3 separate regions of the Homo sapiens genome follow, and all the other regions are reported to be linked to region 2. Evidence: microRNA targets listed by miRTarBase, many of them from high-throughput screens and not tested one by one. Region 2 holds a microRNA gene; each other region holds the end of a gene's coding sequence. Distances are between the middles of the regions.

Region 1 (7,186 bases), 150 Mb from region 2:
GCTTGGGGCTCCTCTCTTCCTGCGTTTGACCCTACTCCTGCCCCTCTATTTCTGCTCAGCTTGCTCTTTGATGACTTCTGCCTTGACCCGTTCTCTTCCTGGCATGCACATGCTCTGGCCCAGCAGGTACGGTGCCCATACTTACTTCGGGCCCCGTGCTCGCTTCTGTCGCTCTGCTTGCTGCCACCTCCCTCTGTCATTGCCTCTGTTCCTGGGGTGGATGAAGGTTGCTGGGCAAAGGGGATATGTTAGCAGGGCTAGGCAGGACACCAGTTCTAAATCCTACTTCCTAAAGATTTGTCTGTATGTCTATAGCTGGAGCAGTTCAGCATGGAGAGCCCATCAGCCAGCCTGGTGCTGGATCCCCCTGGCTTTTCTGAAGGGCCTGGATTTTTAGGGGGTGAGGGGCCAATGGGTGGCCCCCAGGATCCCCACACCTTCAACCACCAGAACTTGACCCACTGTTCCCGCCATGGCTCAGGGCCTAACATCATCCTCACAGGTGAATGGGGGTGGGTGGTGATGGGAAATGGAAGGAGGAAGTGACACATTCACTAATGAGTAGGAGATTGAGGGGTCTTGGAAAAGTTTACAGGACATGGGGTCCTCACCTGTCTCTTCTACCCACAGGGGACTCCTCTCCAGGTTTCTCTAAGGAGATTGCAGCAGCCCTGGCCGGAGTGCCTGGCTTTGAGGTGTCAGCAGCTGGATTGGAGCTAGGGCTTGGGCTAGAAGATGAGCTGCGCATGGAGCCACTGGGCCTGGAAGGGCTAAACATGCTGAGTGACCCCTGTGCCCTGCTGCCTGATCCTGCTGTGGAGGAGTCATTCCGCAGTGACCGGCTCCAATGAGGGCACCTCATCACCATCCCTCTTCTTGGCCCCATCCCCCACCACCATTCCTTTCCTCCCTTCCCCCTGGCAGGTAGAGACTCTACTCTCTGTCCCCAGATCCTCTTTCTAGCATGAATGAAGGATGCCAAGAATGAGAAAAAGCAAGGGGTTTGTCCAGGTGGCCCCTGAATTCTGCGCAAGGGATGGGCCTGGGGGAACTCAAGGGAGGGCCTAAAGCACTTGTAACTTTGAACCGTCTGTCTGGAGGTCAGAGCCTGTTGGAAAGCAGGGGTAGAGGGGAGCCCTGGAAGCAGGGCTTTTCCGGATGCCTAGGGGTGGGCAGTGCCAGCCCCTCCTCACCACTCTTCCCCTTGCAGTGGAGGAGAGAGCCAGAGTGGATACTATTTTTTATTAAATATATTATTATATGTTAATAAAAAAATCATATCAAACCCTTGGTGTGGTTAGTTATTTGGGGCATGGCTGGGGATCTAGGGAGTTATAGGGCCATGGGTCTTTTTATCTATTAGGCTTTTTGCATCTTCTTAGCACCACTGTGCTTTGTGGAAGGGCCCCACAGCCTCGGAATTTGTACCCAGCTGGATGTAGGCTTCCACGGCAGCAGGAAATCACTTCATGTGCCCTCCTGTCTGTCCAGGGCCCTGCTGCAGCATCAGATGGGGGCTTTGACTGATCAGACAAGTTATTCCTCTTCCTCAACCCTAGGTCTGGCAGTGAGTCGGGTAAGGAGGTGATTGCTGGCTGAGCCCACAGGTCTGAAGTGCTCCTAGGTCTCAGGGAAGCAAGCCTTCATCCTCACTCCCTCACTATGCATGCATTCACTTCACCCTCTCCACTCTTCACCACTCATTCATTTTAGTTTTAATTAAACAGATCCTTCAGTGCCATGCATGTTCTGAAGGTTTTCTCTTTCTGGATTGGGTTGCCAGCCCTTGGACCAGCCGTGTGGGCCTCTGCACCCCTCACTCCCCCAACCCGCATAGTGAGAAAAGTAGAGCCCCGCAGTTACCTTACCCCCACCTCCACTGCTCTATTCCACACCCTGCAGTCCTGGCCTCTCTTCCTCTTTCCAAAGCTCTTGTCATTTTCAAAAAAGAGAACTGAGAGCTTCTGGTTCTGGTCCAAAGGGAATGCCCTGTGCCCTAAACCTGGAAGTAGGGGGAGCCACCTGGGTCCCCGTAGACTAGACCTTCGGGACTTCACCTGCGCCCACATCATGCTTGCCACATCTGACTGCAGGACCCAGGCGGGAAGGGAGCGCGCCGCGGCCCTCTGGGTCGCCTGGGGTCAGTGTCCTGAGGCACGGGCTGGATGGTGGGAAGCTACCTGGGTGCAGGGGGCCCTCCCAGCCGCCAGGGGTCGGGCTGCAGGCGGCTGGGCTTTGGGCAGACGCTTGCCAGGGTCACGGCCGCCGGCCGAGGAGGAGGGGTGGGGGTAGCGGCGGCGCCCGCGGCCCGGAGCGGGGGTTGGGGGAGTAGAGAAAGCGGGGCGCGCGGAGGAACGCTGGGTCCCCGGCGCCGCGGGAGCTGGGAGGACCGAGCCGGCCGAGCGAGCAGCGCGGCAGCACAGTCCCCGCGTGGCGCAGCGCGGCGGGGACGCGGGGACCGCCCGGATCTCCTTCCACTGCGCCCCGCGCTCTGCGGTCCTCGGCCGCCTCTTCTTCCTTCACTCACTGCCCGGGCGGGAGCGGCGCCCAAGTCGGGTGCGCCATGTCTGGGGCCGGGTAGCCCCGCCGCCCGCCGGCCCGCCAGCTCGCCCTCCGAGCCACCCGCCAGCGGGCCGGCCGGCCGGGAAGCGCGGGACAGGCAGGTAGGGGCTGGACCGGGCTGGGCGGCAGGCGGGGACGGGCAGGAGGGAGCGCGGGCGGCAGGCGGGGTGGGGGATGGCCCCCAGCTGCTGTCCCTCACTGCACATCTGGTTCCGGTTCCTCTCTCCTGGGGAAGTGAAAGTGGAGGGGAGGGCACCTCCCGCAATTAGCTCGCCGTGCCCGGCCTCCTGCACCCCCTTCTGCTCCCGTGGGTGCCGGAGTCGGAGCCGCCCTCCCTCCCGCTTGGGTCACGCGGCGGCCGGCGCTGCTGCCGTCACGTCCTCGGCCGCCGGCGCGCCTGCTTCTCTGCCCTCCTGCTCCTTCCTCAGCCTCCTCCCCCTCGGCGCGCCCTCTGCCCCAACCCGAACTTCCCGTCACCCGGCACGCGGGCGTGGGGACCCGGAGTGGGCCCTGTGCCCGTTGTCTTCCCTAGGGAGAAAGGGCTGCTTTCTGCAGGACTCTTCCCTGGCTTGGTGAGGGGAGGCCCCGGTGCGCAGGTCCTGCGGATGGGTGCCACCCACTTGCCCCTCAGAAGGTCCCACCTAATGGCCTCTGCCTGCTGCCTTGGGCATAGGGCTCCCATTCGCCCTCAGTGGATGAGGGACAGGTCTGTGCCCCAGAATTAAATCAAGAGGCTGACGCTGACTCCTGGCTTTACCTCCCAGAAGTGGAGTCTAAATTTAGCTGGGGTTGGTGTGTGTACGTGTGTGCGTGTGTGTGTGCGTGTGTGTGTGTGTGTGTGTGTCCAGAGGCCAGGTGATGAAGAAAGCCAGCCTGGCTCTATGAGATTCCTTATTCCCTGTTCTCTGGGGGAACAGCAGGAGGTTAGCAGGACTGCACATCCTGGAACCATTCTGAGCCTCCTCTGCCTTGCTCAGGATCCTATAGTCTGAGATTCCAACTTGGCGTAATGCTGTGCTGGCACCTTCAATGGTAACCCCACCACCGCCACCGCCACCACACACACCCATAGGCTGACTTCCTCTGAGTTGCAGCTTCCCCTCCACTGTTTCAGGAAGTAACCTCCCTTCCCCTCTGAAGCACCCCCCACGCTTCTGGGCCCCTGCTGCGAGCTACCCACCAGGCTTTTTCCCAGCTTCTGCACCCTGGGGCGCCTCAGGACCCTTGGGGCTCCTACTCCCCGGGGTTGGGCCATGGAGGCAGGTGAGAACTAGGCTGTTGTGGGCCTGTTTCTGTCTCTGGGCTCCATGGTGGAGGGTGTGGGATGGCCGGGACTTGTCTCTCACAACTGCTTTGGATCTAACGAGCTACCTAAGGATCCTGGAGGTGTGAGAACACTGGATTTTGGGCCAGATTGGTGGAGTTAAGCTAGGAGAAAGGACACTTGGGTTCGTTGAAAAGACTCTTAAAGCTTGGGTTTTGTGGGCTTTCTCAGAAACCCATGGGGTCCTCTTAAAAACCTAGGAGTGGGCTCTTTAAGAACATTGGCAGGATCACAAGGTTCTTATGGTGTCATAACTAGAGTAGGAAGGTCAGAAACCCTTGAAAAGACTGTAAGGTTGGTATGATGTCATGGCCAGCATGAATGATGTCATGGAAGGCTATTACAAAAAAGATTGTGATCTCTGTGATGTTATAACTGGTGAGCCTTTAAAAGGGACACATGGACAATGTGAATGTCATAGCTCAGGTTAGCTGTGTGTGGTGGAGTTTAGGTTCTTTGAGGGGAGTGCCAGGACCATTAAGTGGGAGGGATCTGGTCTCTTTAAGAAGCTGTGGTGGGCAGTGATGTCACAGGGGGAAGAGTTCAGGATTGGCCGACCCCTTATCCTGCCTTTCTTTGGAAGGACTAGGAAGAGGAGGGGAGCAAGAGGGTACCCTGGTTGCCATGGCATCCCCAGCCTTCCTTGCTTCATCTCTCTCCCACTTGACCATTCCAGATGCAGTGAGTGAGGGGGGGGCCATGGCGGAGGAGCGGCCCCCCCGGCTGGTGGATTACTTCGTGGTAGCTGGGCTTGCAGGGAACGGAGCACCCATCCCTGAGGAAACGTGGGTTCCTGAACCCAGTGGGCCCCTGCGCCCTCCCCGGCCAGCTGAGCCCATCACAGATGTGGCAGTCATCGCTAGGGCACTGGGCGAGGAAGTGCCCCAGGGCTACACATGCATCCAGGCTTCTGCTGGGGGCCACCCCTTGGAACTCAGTGCTGGACTTCTGGGTGGAACTCAACCCGTCATCTGCTACCGCAGGGGCCGTGACAAGCCCCCCCTCGTTGAGCTGGGGTGTGTGCCCCTACCCATGCTGGCACCAGGGGAGGCTGGGAGGGACTCCAGTGAGACAGGGAGAGGTAGGACTATGGAACAAGGGAAGGGCAATGGGGATGGGAGCCTGGTGGGCCAGGGGCCAGGAAGGAAGGACTGAAGTTGTATGTACTTAGTCCTTACAGATGCGATTTCATGTGCTAGTGCTGCTCCTTGCTAGCTCTGAGAGCTTAGGCAGGTTTTTGAGCTCCTCTGGGCCTGTTTTCCTCATCTGTCAAATGGGGAAAATAATTCATCCTCATAGGATGGTCGAGATTAAATGAGATAACCCATGTGACAGACTTAACAGAGTCAGTCAGTGGTAGCTTGTATAACTATTTTTTTTTTTTTTTTTTTTTTTATAGACAGAGTCTCTCTCTGTCACTCAGGCTGGAGTGCAGTGGTGTGATCTTGGCTCACTGCAACCTTCGCCTCCTGGGTTCAGGCAATTCTCCTGCCTCAGCTTCCTGAGTAGCTGAGACTATAGGCATGTGCCACCACGTCCAGCTAATTTTTGAATTTTTAGTAGAGATGGGGTTTGACCATGTTGGCCAGGCTGGTCCTGAACCCCTGACCTCAGGTGATCCACCTGCCTTGGCCTCCCAAAGTGCTGGGATTATAGGCATGAGCCACCGTGCCCAGCTGACCCTTAGTGTTTATTAATGAGTATGAGAGCCATAGAAGGCATGCAGGATTGTTGCTGACCATGAAATAAGGCCAAAGGCCAAAGAAAGGGCACAGGATTCTGGAGGGCAGAGTTCAGCAAGAAGAGGTGGGCCCTAGTGTTAGAGTTTGACAAGGCTGTGGGTACAAGGCAAGTTCAGGGGATTAGATAGGCAGATCTGGCAGGATTGGGTCTTTGTCCTCTACCCTGACCTCTCAACATCTATCTTTGCTCTCTGTGCCAAGGGTGTTGTATGAGGGGAAGGAACGTCCCAAGCCTGGCTTCCAAGTGCTTGACACGACACCCTACAGCCACTCAGCAAACCTGGCCCCTCCAGGCCCCGGGCACCCCCGCACCTACCTCACTTACCGGCGGGCAGCAGAGGGGGCAGGGCTGCATGCCCTGGGCATCACTGACCTCTGCCTGGTGCTGCCCAGTAAGGGCGAGGGCACTCCTCATACTTACTGCCGGCTGCCCCGCAACCTCAACCCTGGCATGGTGAGTGGGGCCAAGAGCTGACACCTGGTCCTCTTGGTGTAAGAGTGGGTGTGGACACTGGGAACAAAGGGCATCCCAGGACCAAGGCTCTGACCACAGGGGTGAGTCCAGAGGGGTAACTCTGGTCTTGGGGCACTGGGATTAATGGGAGCTTTAAAGACAAAAGAACATTTAGGGGTGGTAGAGAGAAAGTGGACCCCAGAAACCTTTGTTAGCTATGTATCTGCTTGTCTCTTGCCATTTCTGGGGTAGTGGGGCCCAGCAGTGTACCTGTGCTATAAGGTGGGCCTGGCGAAGGCCAACACGCTGGTGTACGAGGCAGGTGAGTGGCCCCTTTATCCCTCCAATCCTGTGACCCTACATCCCTTTGCCCTGGTGCCTCTTGGCAGGCACCTTAAGTGTCCCCAGAGTTTACTTTCTCTTTGCTACTCGGGCCTTCTCTGGGATCCCTTGGTTCATTTCCCTTGGAGTCTGATGGACCCTGCTCCTTTTGGGTACCCCCAACTATGCTGGGGGTGCAGAGCTGCTGGGCCGCTACCCGGAGGAGGACAATGAGGCGTTCCCGCTGCCCGAGTCAGTGCCCGTCTTCTGCCTGCCCATGGGGGCCACTATCGAGTGCTGGCCTGCCCAGACCAAGTACCCCGTGCCCGTCTTCTCCACCTTTGTGCTCACGGGTGCAGCTGGTGATAAGGTGGGTGTGTGGAGTGTGGCAAGGGGTCCAGGCTATGCAGGGCCTGCCTGACTACCCTTCTGCCCCCTGCCAGGTGTATGGTGCCGCCCTGCAGTTCTACGAGGCGTTCCCAAGGGCCAGGCTATCAGAGCGACAGGCACGGGCACTGGGCCTGCTGAGCGCCGTGGAGCGGGGTCGGGCACTGGGGGGCAGAGCTGTGCGCAGCCGGCGTGCCATCGCTGTGCTGTCCCGCTGGCCTGCCTTCCCTGCCTTCCGCGCCTTCCTCACCTTCCTTTACCGCTACTCCGTCTCAGGCCCCCACCGCCTACCCTTGGAAGCGTGAGCATGGCTCCTCTGCCATTGGGAAGGGGTTAGGAAGGGATAAGGGGGCCAGGAGAGATGGGAGAGATTCAGATGTGGGTGGGGGGAGGGCT
Region 2 (7,186 bases):
TCAGGGTGGGGGGTACTGCATTTTCAGGCAGGGAGGGAAGAAGATTTGCTCAACATTGAGGAGGAAAACTCAGAGACCCTTTCCTAGGGAGCCCCTTTTCCCTCCTACCTCAGGTGCGGACGAAGCCCTGGCCAGGCTCCTTCTGTCTCTCATGCAGCTCCCTTCTGTCTCTCATGCGGCTCCCTCCTGTCTCTCATACGGCTCCCTTCTGTCTCTGGAGAGCGGCTGGGACGGGACTGGGAGCAGATGAGAGGCTAAGGTCCCTATGAGGCCGCAGCTCTTGGGCACCTGGCCGTGCCCTCACTGGACGCTGCCTGCTGTGTCGAGGGGCCATGTGCCCAGGGCTCCTGCCTTGTGTCCCCCTCAGGTGCTGATACCTGTGTTCGCGCTGGGCCGCGCCCAGGAGCTCTGCATCCTCCTGGAGACCTTCTGGTAGGTGCCGCCAGGACGGCTCTTTAAGGAGCCCCTGGCCCGGCCTGAACACAGTCCAGTTGGTGGGCAGCCCTGTCCAGCGTAGCGGTGGCATCTTGGCCCTGCTTGCTGCTGTCCTGGGGGGCCGCTCGTGTGCTGTGTGACCCCAGGAAGCCTGTGACATCCCGTCAGCGCCACCGTGTGCGGCTCTTGTAGGGGTTCCTGGTTCTCCGCTGAGCCCGGCTGCTGCAGGGCTTAATGGGACAAGTGGTCGCGACTGGACTCAACCTGGCCCGTGCGTGGGCTGTGCAGACACGGGTGTTGGGGGTGACCCGGCCGAGTCCTGCCCTGCAGCATTCTCCCCTGTGGCCACTGTGCTGACTGGGCCGGTGGTCCCCAGGGAGCGCATGAACCTGAAGGTGCCCATCTACTTCTCCACGGGGCTGACCGAGAAGGCCAACCACTACTACAAGCTGTTCATCCCCTGGACCAACCAGAAGATCCGCAAGACTTTCGTGCAGAGGAACATGTTTGAGTTCAAGCACATCAAGGCCTTCGACCGGGCTTTTGCTGACAACCCAGGACCGATGGTGAGGCCCGCGGCAGGGCCGGCCAGCACATCCACACCCGTCGGTCTCCTGTCTTCCGCAGGTGTCTGGGCTTGGGCCTGCAGTGGGGGTGGGGGCATCTGCTGCCCTGACCCCCCACCTGGCCCTGTGTGTCCTGTAGGTTGTGTTTGCCACGCCAGGAATGCTGCACGCTGGGCAGTCCCTGCAGATCTTCCGGAAATGGGCCGGAAACGAAAAGAACATGGTGAGGGCATGGTGAGGTGTGGGAATCTGGAAGCTGGAGGCCGACGGGTTGTCCTTCCACCCATGCTGTCTCTGAGCTCTCACTGGCTTGGCCTCGTGCTGGCCAAGGGACGTGGCTGCTGCTGCTGGGGAACGGGGGCGATGTCCGCCTGGAGCTGCTCAGTCTCTGTGACACAGCTTGTCCACCTCGGGCAGAACAGCCCCAGCCCAGCCCTGGACAGTCTTGTGCCAAAACCTGAGCCCTTTGGAGTCTGCAGCTAGGCTTGGTCGGGCGCCGCTGGCAGGTGGAAACAGCTTCCAGGGGTTCAGGCGGGGGCATCCCGGGCAAGGCCTTGAGGTGCCAAGGCTGGAGTTCCCTGGCTGTGAGCTCTGTGCCTGCCCCCAGGTCATCATGCCCGGCTACTGCGTGCAGGGCACCGTCGGCCACAAGATCCTCAGCGGGCAGCGGAAGCTCGAGATGGAGGGGCGGCAGGTGGTGAGTCTCGACCCCGCACTGGGCTGGCAGGGCCGAGGGGCACCTCCTGGTGGTAACCACTGTCCACGCCCCGTGGCCTCTGTAGCTGGAGGTCAAGATGCAGGTGGAGTACATGTCATTCAGCGCACACGCGGACGCCAAGGGCATCATGCAGCTGGTGGGCCAGGCAGAGCCGGAGAGCGTGCTGCTGGTGCATGGCGAGGCCAAGAAGATGGAGTTCCTGAAGCAGAAGATCGAGCAGGAGCTCCGTAGGCAGCCGGGCGGGCGGCGTGGGGCCCACCTCGGGTCAGCACGGGCAGCCTGGGCTGAGGCTCTCTCTTCCCCCGGGGTCCAGGGGTCAACTGCTACATGCCGGCCAATGGCGAGACGGTGACGCTGCCCACAAGCCCCAGCATCCCCGTAGGCATCTCGCTGGGGCTGCTGAAGCGGGAGATGGCGCAGGGTATGCGGGCTGGGCAGGGCAGGGCAGGGTGCTCGGGGCAGGCGGCTGGGAGCGGCCCTCACATTGATGGCTCCTGCCACCTCCTCCGCAGGGCTGCTCCCTGAGGCCAAGAAGCCTCGGCTCCTGCACGGCACCCTGATCATGAAGGACAGCGTGAGTGCCAGGACGGTCTCTGGAGGGGGGAGGGCCGCTGCTGCGCTCACTGACCTGTCCCTGCCCCACAGAACTTCCGGCTGGTGTCCTCAGAGCAAGCCCTCAAAGAGCTGGGTCTGGCTGAGCACCAGCTGCGCTTCACCTGCCGCGTGCACCTGCATGACACACGCAAGGAGCAGGAGACGGCATTGCGCGTCTACAGCCACCTCAAGAGGTGGGCGCCCGGCCCCGCCCCCCCCCCACTCCCTTGGGCCCTGGAGGCCAGGCAGGGTCTCACCGAGCCTCCCCACAGCGTCCTGAAGGACCACTGTGTGCAGCACCTCCCAGACGGCTCTGTGACTGTGGAGTCCGTCCTCCTCCAGGCCGCCGCCCCTTCTGAGGACCCAGGCACCAAGGTGCTGCTGGTCTCCTGGACCTACCAGGTAAGGGGTGACCCCCACCCCACCGCGGTCAACACAGGTATCAACATTCCTCCCTGTCCTGCACCACCCACAATGCTTTTGCCTCTGCCCTAGGACGAGGAGCTGGGGAGCTTCCTCACATCTCTGCTGAAGAAGGGCCTCCCCCAGGCCCCCAGCTGAGGCCGGCAACTCACCCAGCCGCCACCTCTGCCCTCTCCCAGCTGGACAGACCCTGGGCCTGCACTTCAGGACTGTGGGTGCCCTGGGTGAACAGACCCTGCAGGTCCCATCCCTGGGGACAGAGGCCTTGTGTCACCTGCCTGCCCAGGCAGCTGTTTGCAGCTGAAGAAACAAACTGGTCTCCAGGCTGTCTTGCCTTTATTCCTGGTTAGGGCAGGTGGTCCTAGACAGCAGTTTCCAGTAAAAGCTGAACAAAAGACTACTTGGTACTCTCTTCTTGGTGTACATGGCTGTGTCCTGCACTGTGCCCCATCCCGCCTGGGACAGAGACGGGCATCCAGGGTGCTGGGACCCGGGCAGGGAGGCTACTGTGGAGACCAGGCAGCAGTGCTGTGGGCCCCAAGCAGCTGTGACTGCCCTGGCTTGACCAGCACAGGGTTGGGCCTGGTGTGGCCTAACTTTGGCTTGAGTGTCCAGGGTCATCCGTGGCTCCCGAACTGTGGCCCCTGCAGGGTGCAGGAGGCAGCACCTGTGGACGGACCAGACCCTGCGTCAGCCTGGGGCAAGACCGGCCCAGCACCCTCCCCACCGCTGAGACCACTCCCATGACCAGGGAGTGGGCCAGCCCAGGACGGGCTACGGGCTGGCCTGAGGGACTGCAGCCCTGGGCGGGGGGCTGCTTCACCCCCAGTTGCTGCCGTCAGTGGCCCCTGGCCCCCCACCCCATGCCTCGGCCACAGTAGTCACTGGGCACATGACAGGAGCTTCTCGTGCCTGTTTTTCTTACCGAGGTTCCCGTACAGCACTGACTTGAGGAATAAGCCGTGGGCTGGGGCTACACGTGTCTGGTGCTTGCCCAGGGGATCTTGGCTCTCCAGAATCGTCTTCACCTGGGCAGGTGCCAAAGCCCCCAGCCCCACGGCCACCAGCACAGCCGTCATCCTCCGTACCTGTGACCCAGAGCCACCTGTGACCCAGAGCCGCCCGTGACCCACCAGCACAGCCGTCATCCTCCGTACCTGTGACCCAGAGCCGCCCGTGACCCACCAGCACAGCCGTCATCCTCCGTACCTGTGACCCAGAGCCGCCCACGACCCAGAGCCAAGACTGCACAGGGGCCTGCCCACCCTCAGCCCCACCCCCTGGGGACGGCCCCAGAACAGAGCCTACCTGTCTATACAGGAAAGACTGGCTCTCAAACTCCAGGTTCCAGAACCGCAGCTTCCTGGAAAAATACGTACCTGTAGGTGTCTGTGGGGCAGTGTTTGCCATCCTCAGCCTACTATGTGGCCTTGGACGGGAGAGTGACAGGGTGGGCCTAAAGACGAGCCTGGTTCCCACTAGCTTGGCCACCAGGGGCCCTGGCTGATCTCCTGCCCCCAGTGAGGCCCATTGGAGGGGCTTAAAACCAGAGAAACAATGCTTGGGCAAGGAGGCAGCAGGACCCTGGAGGCTGGGCAGGTAGCCTGGCCATCCCAGAGGGGCTTGCCCTGGGCCCTCACCTAGGGTCCTGGTGCAGGGTCTGGGAACGTGGCTGGTGCGGGTGCCAGAGACCCCCAGTCCTGTACCTGCTGCTCTGCCACAGAAGTCTGGGGCTGGCAGAAGTTCTTCCCCCCTTCAGGGCTCACCCCAATAGGGGAGGTTCTGGTCAGAAGCTGCCACCTGGTGGGTGGCCCTCGGGACAGTGCTGGGGGCAGCAGAAACCACCCCACCAGAACCACTGGCACCAGTGAGACCTTTCCAGTAGCTGCCAACATTCTTCCATCAGGCATGGCAGGGGTTTTTCAGAGACAAGCAGCCTTCCCTGTTCTCCGCTCCCCAGCCTGGGGGGAGGGCACAGCTGGAGGCTGGGGGGCGTCCGGGCGAATCCCCTCCAGCTGTCCAGGTCCTGAGGACTCCCGGCTGCCTGCCTCCCGCCTCACCTTGCCTTAAAACTGGGGGAGGTGCTGGAGCTAAAATCAGCACGTGACTTGAGGGCAGGGCCACAGCCCAGGGGCCCTTCCTCACCTGCTCTCCTCGGGGGTGACCAAGGGGCTGGCTTGGCCTGGGGAAACGGAGACCCGGCGCAGCGTTCGCACGGGGCTCGGCACCGGGCTGCCAGCGGACTGGAAGGCGCTGAAGTCGTGTGTGCCGAGGAGGTGCTGGGCGGCTTCCTGCATGGCGACCATATCCAGGCAGCTTCAGGGACCAGGGTGACCGTCAGGAGGGTGGGGCCGGCCTGCCCGCCCCCTCCCCGCTGTCAGGGCCACACTCACTCTGCCGGGAGAGTCCAGCATAGGTTGCGTTCAAACACCGGCAGCTCATCACGCCGGTGACAGCCAGTGGCCAGGCGGTACAGGTAGGTCCGGGACGTGGCTGCGTGACGAGCGTGGAAGTCGCTGGGCACTCGGAAGGCCCGCAGGACCCTATGGCGGCAGGTAAAGCTCACCGGAGGAACGACCCCGCCCGCCCGCGGTGTCACATTGGCTCTCCTTCCCCCTCGAGCTCCGACCAGACAAGGAAGTCTGTCCAGATCTCCAGCCTCCGCCCGCGACAGATGGAGTCGGGAAGGCACAGCCCCAGGGCTGCTTAGGTCGCGGGCTCACCTGATGGCCGGGTGCCGCAGGTGTGTGTTGAGGGCCTCGGCCAGGACCTCGGGCGGGAAGGGCGGCCGGCCTGAGCGGCGCTGGACGTCCAGGTGCGCCGCGTTGCTCAGGGCGTGGACCCCGGCGTCCGTGCGGCTGGAGATGGTGAACCTGACCGGCTCCACGGAATTCAGCCGCTCGGCGGCCTCCTGCAGGACCGAGCCGCGGGGCGGGCGGGTGAGCGAGGCCGGACCCCGGGGACGCGCGGGCGGGAGCCTCCCCCTTACCCCTCACCGGGCGTCCCGTGACCGGCTGAGCGCACCTCCAGGTAGTTCTGGACCCCGACGGCGCGCTGAGTGCCCCTGACGGCCGCGACCCCGCTGCGGGCAGAAGCGGGCGGAGGTTACCGGGGGCGCCCTGCCCTGGGGTCTCCGCCGCCGTCTGAGGCCAGGGCCGCTTCCTTCCCCGAACGTTTGGAACCCGCGTCCAGAGACATCCGCCTGCCCGCCCGCGCCCTCCTTCCCGCCTCCGCCCGGGCCCACGTGGCGCCCGCCGCTGCGCCTGGGAAACCTACTTAAAGTCGGTGCCCACGTACTGGAAGTACACAAGATAGCGCGCGCGCACGGAGCCTGAGGCCGGCGCCGAACTCATGGCGGAGCCCAGCCGGTGGCGTCAGAGGCGGCCTCCAGCGCAGGAATCCTGCGCGCGCGCGGACGCGGCCTGGTCACGCCCCCCCCCCCTCCCCCCCGGCCCCGGCCGCTCTTGCGCCTGCGCGGTGGCACCGCGCCACGGCGGCCAGAGTCGGGGAGCGGAGGCGGGGCCGGGCTTAGGGAGCGGCTGCAAAGTGCCGGCCCGCCGCCGAGCGCAGGCGCTCTACCTCTATCGCGGCGCCCCGGGAGGCGCGCACCAACCACGCGGTCACCCCGCGCTCTCGCGGGCGTGCATTCGTTCACTCGCTCATTCATTCGCCGCCGCCCACACTCCCCGAGCGCGCCCGTTCGCCGCGTTGCGGCCAAGTCCTCCCAGACGTGGTTTTTGCAAACGCCCTGAGTTGCGCAACGGCCGGGATGGTTGGAGCGGGCGGGCCCGCGCCCTCCCCGCGCCCTCCCCGCGCCCCACATTTCCACCGACTGTCCCCGGAGACGGCCGTGGCAGGCCCCGCCTCACTTCCGGACCGGGGTGGTCCCTGGACGCTGCGAGAGGCGTTTGGCGACGCTCCCCGGCGGTGACAGCGGGCGGCGCGCGCGGGCGGCGGACCTTGGCGACGCTCCCCGGCAGTGACAGCGGGCGGTGCGCGCGGGCGGCTGACTTTGGCGACGCTCCCCGGCGGTGACAGGCGGGGCGGGGCGCGGCGCGGCGGCCTCATTCCGGGGCGGGCGGGCGCCGAGGCGGCGCGGGCGGGACGAGCGGTCCGGGCCGGCGCGGCTGCCGCTCGGCGCCGCGGTCCTCGTGCCAGTGAGCGCCGCGGCCGCCGCAGCCATGACCGTGGAGTTCGAGGAGTGCGTCAAGGACTCCCCGCGCTTCAGGTGCGCCGCCCGGGGCCGCCGGGGTGGGCGCAGGCCGGGGGCGTCGCTGTCGCCTTTGTGCCCGGCGGCGGGGTGGGGAGGTCAGCGCCGGGCCGGGCCGCGGCCGCCGGGGAGGGGCTGGAGGACCGGCCTCGGACAAAGCGGCGGCCCCGCCCCGCCATGCCCCGGGGGTTGGAACAAAAGACGCTCCTGCCCTGTGCGGCCGCCCCGGGTGGAGGGCGT
Region 3 (7,186 bases), not on the chromosome of region 2:
AATGTTTGTAACACCCAAATCACCAATAATGCTTTTATTTTCCACATCAAGATTAATTTATATGTTAGTTTTAGTACAAGTACTAAAATGTATACTTCTTGCCCTAATAGCTAAGGTATACATAAGCTTCACCATACATCTTGCAGCCACCTGTCTGTCCTATGTCATTGTTATAAATGTAGAGATTTTAGGAAACTATTTTATTCAACCTGGGACATCTATACTGTAGGAGTTAGCACTGACCTGATGTCTTATTTAAAAGTAATGTATATTACCTTTACATATATTCCTTATATATTTAAACGTATTTCCATGTTATCCAGCTTAAAATCACATGGTGGTTAAGAGCATGAGTTCTGAGTCAGATCTGGACTGAAATCCTGATGCTACCACATGGGTTAGGTTGTGACTGTGGTCAAGTCACTTAACTTCTTCATGGCCCAGGTGGCTCATTTTTAAAAGAGAAAACCTTCATAAATGCTTTCGGTAAAGATGAGATGCTTAGCATAGTGCCTGTCACACAGTATACATTGCCATTTCCCCCTTCCTGTCTGCTTCATCTGTTCACACTGCTGCTAAAACAGTAAGAACCCAGCTGTCGTCAGTCACACACACATTCCCTAAGAAGTGTCTTTCTGAGATGCACTGTGGCACAGAAAAATGAGCACCAACTTTCAAGCGACTTAAACCCAACTCCAAATTTGAACTTCACATCCACCACCAAGTGTCATACCATACGAAGACAAGTTCCTGGCCTGAGTCTTGGTTTCCTCAAATGCAAATGAGATCGTGCCCGCTCCACCTCATGCTGCCATAAGGATGAACTAAGGAGAACCCAGCACTGGCCCACAAAATGAGCTAACAAGCATTCTCCTCATTAGTCCTAGGCACTGGAGAGATTCAAAGTGCAAGAATGAAATACTTTGTTCATCTTTAGGCAAGGTCCTTTGCAACCCAACCTCAAAGAAAAGTGCTGGCACAAAGAAGGTAAGCAAGCAAGGCAGAGCTGGGGAGGGGACACCAGGAACAAATGGGGAGTGGAATGCCTGAGTCCTGCTTCCCGTTGTCAGATGGTGCCTGAATGTGCTTTCTGTTGGGTGATGCTTGTATGGCTGTGCTGTGAGATGCAGGAGAAAGGGGTGAATGTAAACCGTGGGTGGGTTTGGGCTGAAAATACTGTTTGTTGCCAAGGAAACACAAGGAACAATTCATAAGGCTAGGATATTGATTTCAAAAACTCTGAGAACTAAGGCTGATCTCTGAGTTTCCTAAAACCCCCAATTGTGCTGAGACGACTGATTACACATCAGCATTGCCAACGCAGAAGAAACCTGAATGCCCACGCATCAACACCACTCACTGTTAACAAGCAGGAGCATATGCGCCACGTGGCTTCCAACCACACAGTGTTTCCACGTTTCTTTTGATTTCATCTACTAAATAACCTAGAAAACTCAGCCACTCAAGAAAGAGACAAGAGTGGCAGCCAGTTTTTCTCTTTGAAAAACTCGATGCTTAAACAGGAGGCCGCAATCTGCCAGCATTCAACAGCAGCCCCAGAACATTAATGATCACACACCTCCAACCTTACCGGTAATGCTCAGAGTGACATTCTCGGCTCACTCAGCCCTTTTACACAAACTCAGTCACAACCCTTGGAGCTGGGTTTCTTTTGTTAACTTTTAGCGAGGTTATTACTAAAGCCAATTTAACCCTAAAATCAGACCTTACTTTACCACAGCATTTTTAGGGAGAAAGACTTTGGTTCCTTAGAGATAAGGCAGAAAAATACTATAAAGCATTGAACACAGACAAAGAATGTGGCCCTAAAGAGTGACCTATAACTTGTGGTTAAGGCTAAGTGTTCAATGAGGTTTTGAGTGGTGGCTGCTCTTGAACGTATGTGTTCTTTTACCACACACTCCACAGAAGTTCTAACTCTTACAGTGAGCCAAAAGTCTGTTAAAATAGTAACAAGGAAGGTGTACACACACACACAACCTTTGTTGAGTTCCTTGGAAACCCAACAGCTCAGAGTATGACCTTAGGTCACTTAGTAAACCTTTTGAAATGAAGGCCAAGCAATTGCCTTTTAGGGGAGCAGCTGACCTCAGAAGCCACGGAGGTTAGGTCCTTTATGACAAACTTCTGGTCTCTGTGGAGCCCTGATGAAGTAGGAGTCTAATGGGGTTCCACACGTGGCCTAACAGAAATGGAGCTGTCCATCTCTCCACACTAGATTCCACTGTGGAGACATTTACTGCAATATAAATGTGCCAATCCAAGGATAGCACACTCACTTTCAATCTTATAATTCTGTAATACAGAATTGGGTAAAGGTTCTCCATGTCTTAAGGCATTTGTCTCAAATGATTTTCAAGCTTAATACTTGTTTTCAGCTTAGGATTCTTACCTATGAAAACAAAATCCTTTATTAACCACACCTACACAAATCCCCCCAAATCCTGAAATGGAAGCCTTTGAAAGCTGGTACAAGGTAAGGATCCAAGGCACAATCATAACATGTAAATGTGTGAAAATCGAGAATTCTGTTCATTTTAGCACTTCACAGGACCCCCAGTGAGAACACCTTTACTAGAAGGCATCAGGAAAGGCTCTCCCCTAAGGAACTGGTATGCTTTTCACCTACTGATAGGGCAGTGCATAACTTCTTTCCCTACCCTTAGCCTTGATTTCCAGAAAGTTCCAGAGTCAAATTTTACATACAATAATGTATGTAAACCCTCCCTTCAATTTTCATTTGTTTTTCTTCCCTTTCTGTTCATATTTCATTAACATGGCTGTATATGTCTTTTCTTGGTATGCTGCTTCAAGTGCTTTTGGGAAAGAGGCCAGGTATTAATGTAAATATATTTCAAATACAGACTGAAAAAAGCAAGCAAATATTGCAATTATCTTAGTATATAAAAGAGGGTATCTTCGCTCTCATGGTACACCTTAATCAAAAAGCAGTATTTAGGAATTATCTAAATTAAAATAAAATACACCTATTAGGATAAAATACTCCAGCAGCAGGCCTGGACTCACCAATTTCAGAACCCCTCAACTCCTTGGCTTTACCAAGAACAGTCATATTCCCTGAATATAACACTGGTCACCTTCACTAGTTCCATGCTAGTGCGAAGAGCCCTGCACTAGATCAGGGTTGTGTGTGCTTAGCTATGTGAACTGGCTAAGTCATTACCATCTGATCACCTCTGTGTCCTCCCCCTTAGAGTGAGGGCAGCTACTACTGCTCCTATGCTACAAAACTATGAGGAGGTAAACTCAGGCTTGCTCTTAGAAGTGCAATAGAAACAGAAGATCATACACCATGGAGGCCTAAAGTGATTCTTTCTAAAGAGCCTAAGGACTTTTTTTTTTTTTTGAGACAGAGTCTCACTCCGTCACCCAGGCTGGAGTGCAGTGGTGTGATCTCGGCTCACTGCAACCTCCGCCTCCTGGATTCAAGCGATTCTCCTGCCTCAGCCTCCCAAGCAGCTGGTACTATAGGCGCCTGCCACCACGCCCAGCTTATTTTTTTTGGTATTTTTAGTAGAGACGGGGTTTCACTATGTTGACCAGGCTGGTCTCAAACTCCTGACCTCGTGATCCACCCACCTTGAGCTCCCAAAGTGCTGGGATTACAGGCATGAGCCACCGTGCCCGGCCAGGACTTTACACCAATTTCTTTTTCTAAATTCAAAGTTCTTTTTTTGGCAGCAATGATACAGGTGGGGAAATGATATAAACACGGAGATACAGGCACCAAATAATGAAAGAAAACATTTCTATACATAAAACATTTATACCTGTTTTCATTTTTTTACATTAAGATGTAAACATCCTCTTATCCAAAATAGCCAGTGAAAAAATAAAAACAAAAACAAAGTAAGCCTTTAAAAATAGTTGGTGAGGAGTTTTCAAGTGTTCTTGCTGAATGTATCCGAATACCAAACATTGTAACTCGTCAATTCAATGACAAGGAGGTAGCTCCTGAACCAAACTGGTGCGAGCTGTGTCAATACAGAGCAAAATCTCAACCAGAATGCTCCAACTTCCCTATTTACAAGAAAATTCTGTTTTAACCATTAGTTTAGAAAACCTTTCTTTTTTGAGACAGAGTCTCGCTCTGTTGGCCAGGCTGGAGTACAGTGGCGTGATCTTGGCTCACTGCCAACTTCCACCTCCTGGGTTCAAGCGATTCTCCTGCCTCAGCCTCCCGAGTAGCTGGGACTAAAGGCACGCGCAACCACACCCAGCTAAATTTTGTATTTTTAGTAGAGATGAGGTTTCACCACGTTGGCCAGGCTGATTCTCAAACTACTGGTCTCAAGTGATCTGCCTGTCTCGGCCTCCCAAAGTGCTGGGATTACAGGCCTGAGTCACCGTGCCTGGCCTGAAACCCTTTCTAAATTGAACCACTTCACTTTCCTGGCTACAAAATGCCCAACACAATTCAATGGTGTTTTGATGATTCAGGATCTTGTGATGCCTTGGGGTATCTCTCAGAATATGCATACTTTTGTTAGAGGAGAAGACTGGAGCCAACTACTATTTCCTGTTTTACATGAATCCCTGATATCATAAGCTTATTGTCTTCCTTTTACCTCATTCTCCTAAAAGGAGGGTGCAGACTAAGGTTCTAGTTAAGCAAGATTTTACAGTTCTAGACATATCCACAAATACTGGTTCACGCAAACAAGACAGTTCACTAACTTTTTACCCTCTATTTCTCTACTTAATAAATATGCCTAGTAACAACAATTACAATGTAATGGGATCTGTTTTTCTGGATGATATCAAATTTCAGTATCCTATGAATTCCTTGTTTGAAATATTTTCTTTAAAAAACAAAGGAAAATCACCCATGAAGATGACTTCCAAAACCATGAGAGTTATAGATTTTGCTAGTGGAATCCAACTGTGCTTCCTATATTATTAATTCATAACTGCTTAAACAATCTTTAAAACGTTATCAAAAAACAAGTAAGTTCTCTCAGATACTAGGGGCTTAATTCCTCAAAGCCATAAAATAATGAGTTGCTAGGAAAGCCACCTTCTGATTCTTACTACAGTCAAGCATTTCCATAGTGCGGACCCATGCCACTGGTGGCACACAACATGTCTTTAAGTGATGCACAACATAGAATAATGCTGAATCACAGTGAGAATGTCATTCCCTTTACAGTTTCCTTTTATCCTCTGACTATTCCAGAGACAGTGCCTCATGCTGGTGCTGGTAACATCTCCCTCACTGCCACAAAGAAAGAGCCTAAGATTCGGAGCCTTTCTAGGCATTAGTTTCTAGCTAGAACTGAACAACATTTTTTGTGTTCATCTTACTTATTTTGTGGTTACCTTTTATTTATGGCAAACTGATACTGGTTTTCCACTTGGAGCAGGATTCATTTTTTTAAAAAAACTTTAAAATTTAAAAGATAAATATTAAGAAAATAATACAAGTAGTACTAAAGAGACTGAAGTTTGGGAAACAACGGCTATAGTGTGAGTCATATTTTTTAGACGTGATTTCAAAAGAAACAATAAATGTGGATTAGAAAGGAAACATCCATTACTGTATTTTCGATACTTGTGATGTTCCACAGACGAGCTCATCACAGTCTTCTTCTACATCAGGTGATTTCCAGAGTTAAGATTCAAGCAAAAATATAAAAGTAAAAAGAACCAATTTCACACCATCTTGGACTTTATAAACTCGTAGTACCATAAGTGTGCAAATAATCTGATATTTATCACAGTCATTTATTTAAAACATAAACTTTCCAATTTCTGCAGCTTTTTATTTGGTCTATACTAATGCCTCACAAAGGCAAACTCAGGTTGTAGAGTTCCTCCTGCCTGGTCCTCAGAGCAATACCACATCTATTTTCTGAACTCTTCAGGAAGGATTCAGGACTGCTGGCCAAGACTTCCAATGGCATATGACTGTTCTTCCACTGTTACGGCCTTGAAGAGAGAAATCCCCTCCTCCTCTGAATGATAGTCTCATGGCCAACATTCTTCTGAGAGGACTCTTCCATGCTCACAGGCACATCATGCTGATTTTAAAAAAGGAAAGTTGGAGAGAAAGAAAGCAGAGCTTCTCCTCTGTGGGGAACAGCTTCTTCATCACAGTGCAGTTATGATATGTTCCCTCCTTATCCCCCTGAAGCCAAGGCAATAGATCTGAAGGATGGTGTCAGACATCATAATCGGGAGCCTTGCCCTGGGCTTGCCTTAGCCAGATCTGTAGTGTAACAAATGCTCCCACAGTCACATGAAAGAAAAGCTGCCAGAGGTTGCGCAGTTCATAGAGATACATGTTGCATAGACAGATTAAGCCAAAAGTCAAAAAAGATTTGACATTCCGCCAGCCGGTGTAGTAGACAAGTAAATAACACTGTTCAAAATATAAAAATGAAAGATGATTAGGGTTACAGGAAAAGAAACAGATGTTTCTAATATAAAATTGTAACAGGTCAGAGAGTAAAATATAAGAATGGATAAGGTTATTTTTTATCTAGGGATAAGATAATGTAGCATATATCTAAGACATTCAGCTATGAAAGTTTCACAGTTTGAAAGGGAAATAGATTTTCCTCTTAAGTTTTTCATTTTTCAGAAGAAAAGCATTTTGTATCATATTTTAAATGGAAGTACAATGGAATGACTTCCTTGCAAACAGGCTGAGCAAATTCCCCATGGTGACAGGCAACTAAGAAGCATTCCCAGGGTCTGCGGGTGTTCCATTCTCACCCAGGAAAATACAAAAAAGCACATACAAGCTATTCTACAAAATGGACTCTTAATATAACCTGAGTCTGAGTATTAACAAAATCCACAACATTTTACTAGTCGCCCACTGAGTACAAGGAACTATGCTAGGTACAGCATCTGACTGAACATTTGAGGGAGAATTCATTCAACAAATATTTACTCAGGGCCTGCTACAAGTCAGGCATTGTTCTTCAGTTGTAAGTAAAACAAAGCCCTTGTTCATATAAATATTAAATTTTAATGGGGAAGAATTATAAATGTATTTTAAATATATAATATCAAACAGTTATGTCTTGAAAAAGAGAAAGCAGGAAAAAGGGATAGGGAGTAAGAATGATAGTGGGTGCTATTTTAGATGAAACGGTCAAGAAAGTACTCCCCCTCTCACCGCTCCTGCCCATCCTGG

What was found. Region 2 holds the annotated microRNA hsa-miR-6727-3p (UCCUGCCACCUCCUCCGCAG, at 2,212-2,231, shown strand). A microRNA usually pairs through its seed, bases 2 to 8, with sites in the 3' UTR of a target mRNA and lowers its output. Matches are read on the target gene's strand: a 7mer-m8 pairs with bases 2 to 8, a 7mer-A1 pairs with bases 2 to 7 and ends in A, and an 8mer does both.
Region 1: the mRNA of CRTC2 is a reported target of hsa-miR-6727-3p. Seed matches in the 3' UTR shown: 7mer-m8 at 919-925.
Region 3: miRTarBase lists SEC22A as a target of hsa-miR-6727-3p. Seed matches in the 3' UTR shown: 7mer-A1 at 5,857-5,863 and 7mer-A1 at 4,208-4,214.

What each region holds. Positions count from the first base shown.
Region 1 is chr1:153,941,774-153,948,959 of GRCh38, reverse strand. It overlaps CRTC2 (CREB regulated transcription coactivator 2), which reads left to right. Exons shown (of 14, transcript NM_181715.3): 13 at 316-502; 14 at 631-1,285. The coding sequence ends at 851. DENND4B (DENN domain containing 4B) reads left to right here and starts at 2,242. Exons shown (of 28, transcript NM_014856.3): 1 at 2,242-2,659; 2 at 4,563-4,902; 3 at 5,830-6,082; 4 at 6,335-6,404; 5 at 6,604-6,773; 6 at 6,847-7,091. The coding sequence starts at 4,586. RefSeq lists enhancers at 1,671-1,740, 2,552-3,052, 3,521-3,570, 3,891-3,990 and a silencer at 2,131-3,030.
Region 2 is chr1:1,307,547-1,314,732 of GRCh38, reverse strand. MIR6727 (microRNA 6727) reads left to right here and starts at 2,167; the gene lies at 2,167-2,231. It overlaps ACAP3 (ArfGAP with coiled-coil, ankyrin repeat and PH domains 3), which reads left to right and starts at 6,803. Exons shown (of 24, transcript NM_030649.3): 1 at 6,803-6,964. The coding sequence starts at 6,918. PUSL1 (pseudouridine synthase like 1) reads right to left here and starts at 6,136. Exons shown (of 8, transcript NM_153339.3): 1 at 6,013-6,136; 2 at 5,761-5,818; 3 at 5,460-5,647; 4 at 5,130-5,279; 5 at 4,882-5,052; 6 at 4,045-4,099; 7 at 3,662-3,824; 8 at 3,056-3,403. The coding sequence starts at 6,089. The coding sequence ends at 3,354. INTS11 (integrator complex subunit 11) reads left to right here. Exons shown (of 17, transcript NM_017871.6): 8 at 368-432; 9 at 812-1,001; 10 at 1,141-1,224; 11 at 1,609-1,698; 12 at 1,784-1,946; 13 at 2,033-2,140; 14 at 2,232-2,293; 15 at 2,365-2,507; 16 at 2,586-2,715; 17 at 2,809-3,133. The coding sequence ends at 2,874. RefSeq lists silencers at 5,495-5,624, 5,635-5,774, 5,805-5,874, 6,095-6,774, 6,815-6,984 and 1 more.
Region 3 is chr3:123,270,739-123,277,924 of GRCh38, reverse strand. It overlaps SEC22A (SEC22 homolog A, vesicle trafficking protein), which reads right to left. Exons shown (of 7, transcript NM_012430.5): 7 at 3,789-6,403. The coding sequence ends at 6,203. Among named protein-coding and RNA genes, the nearest start is that of SEC22A, 72 kb to the right of the region's middle.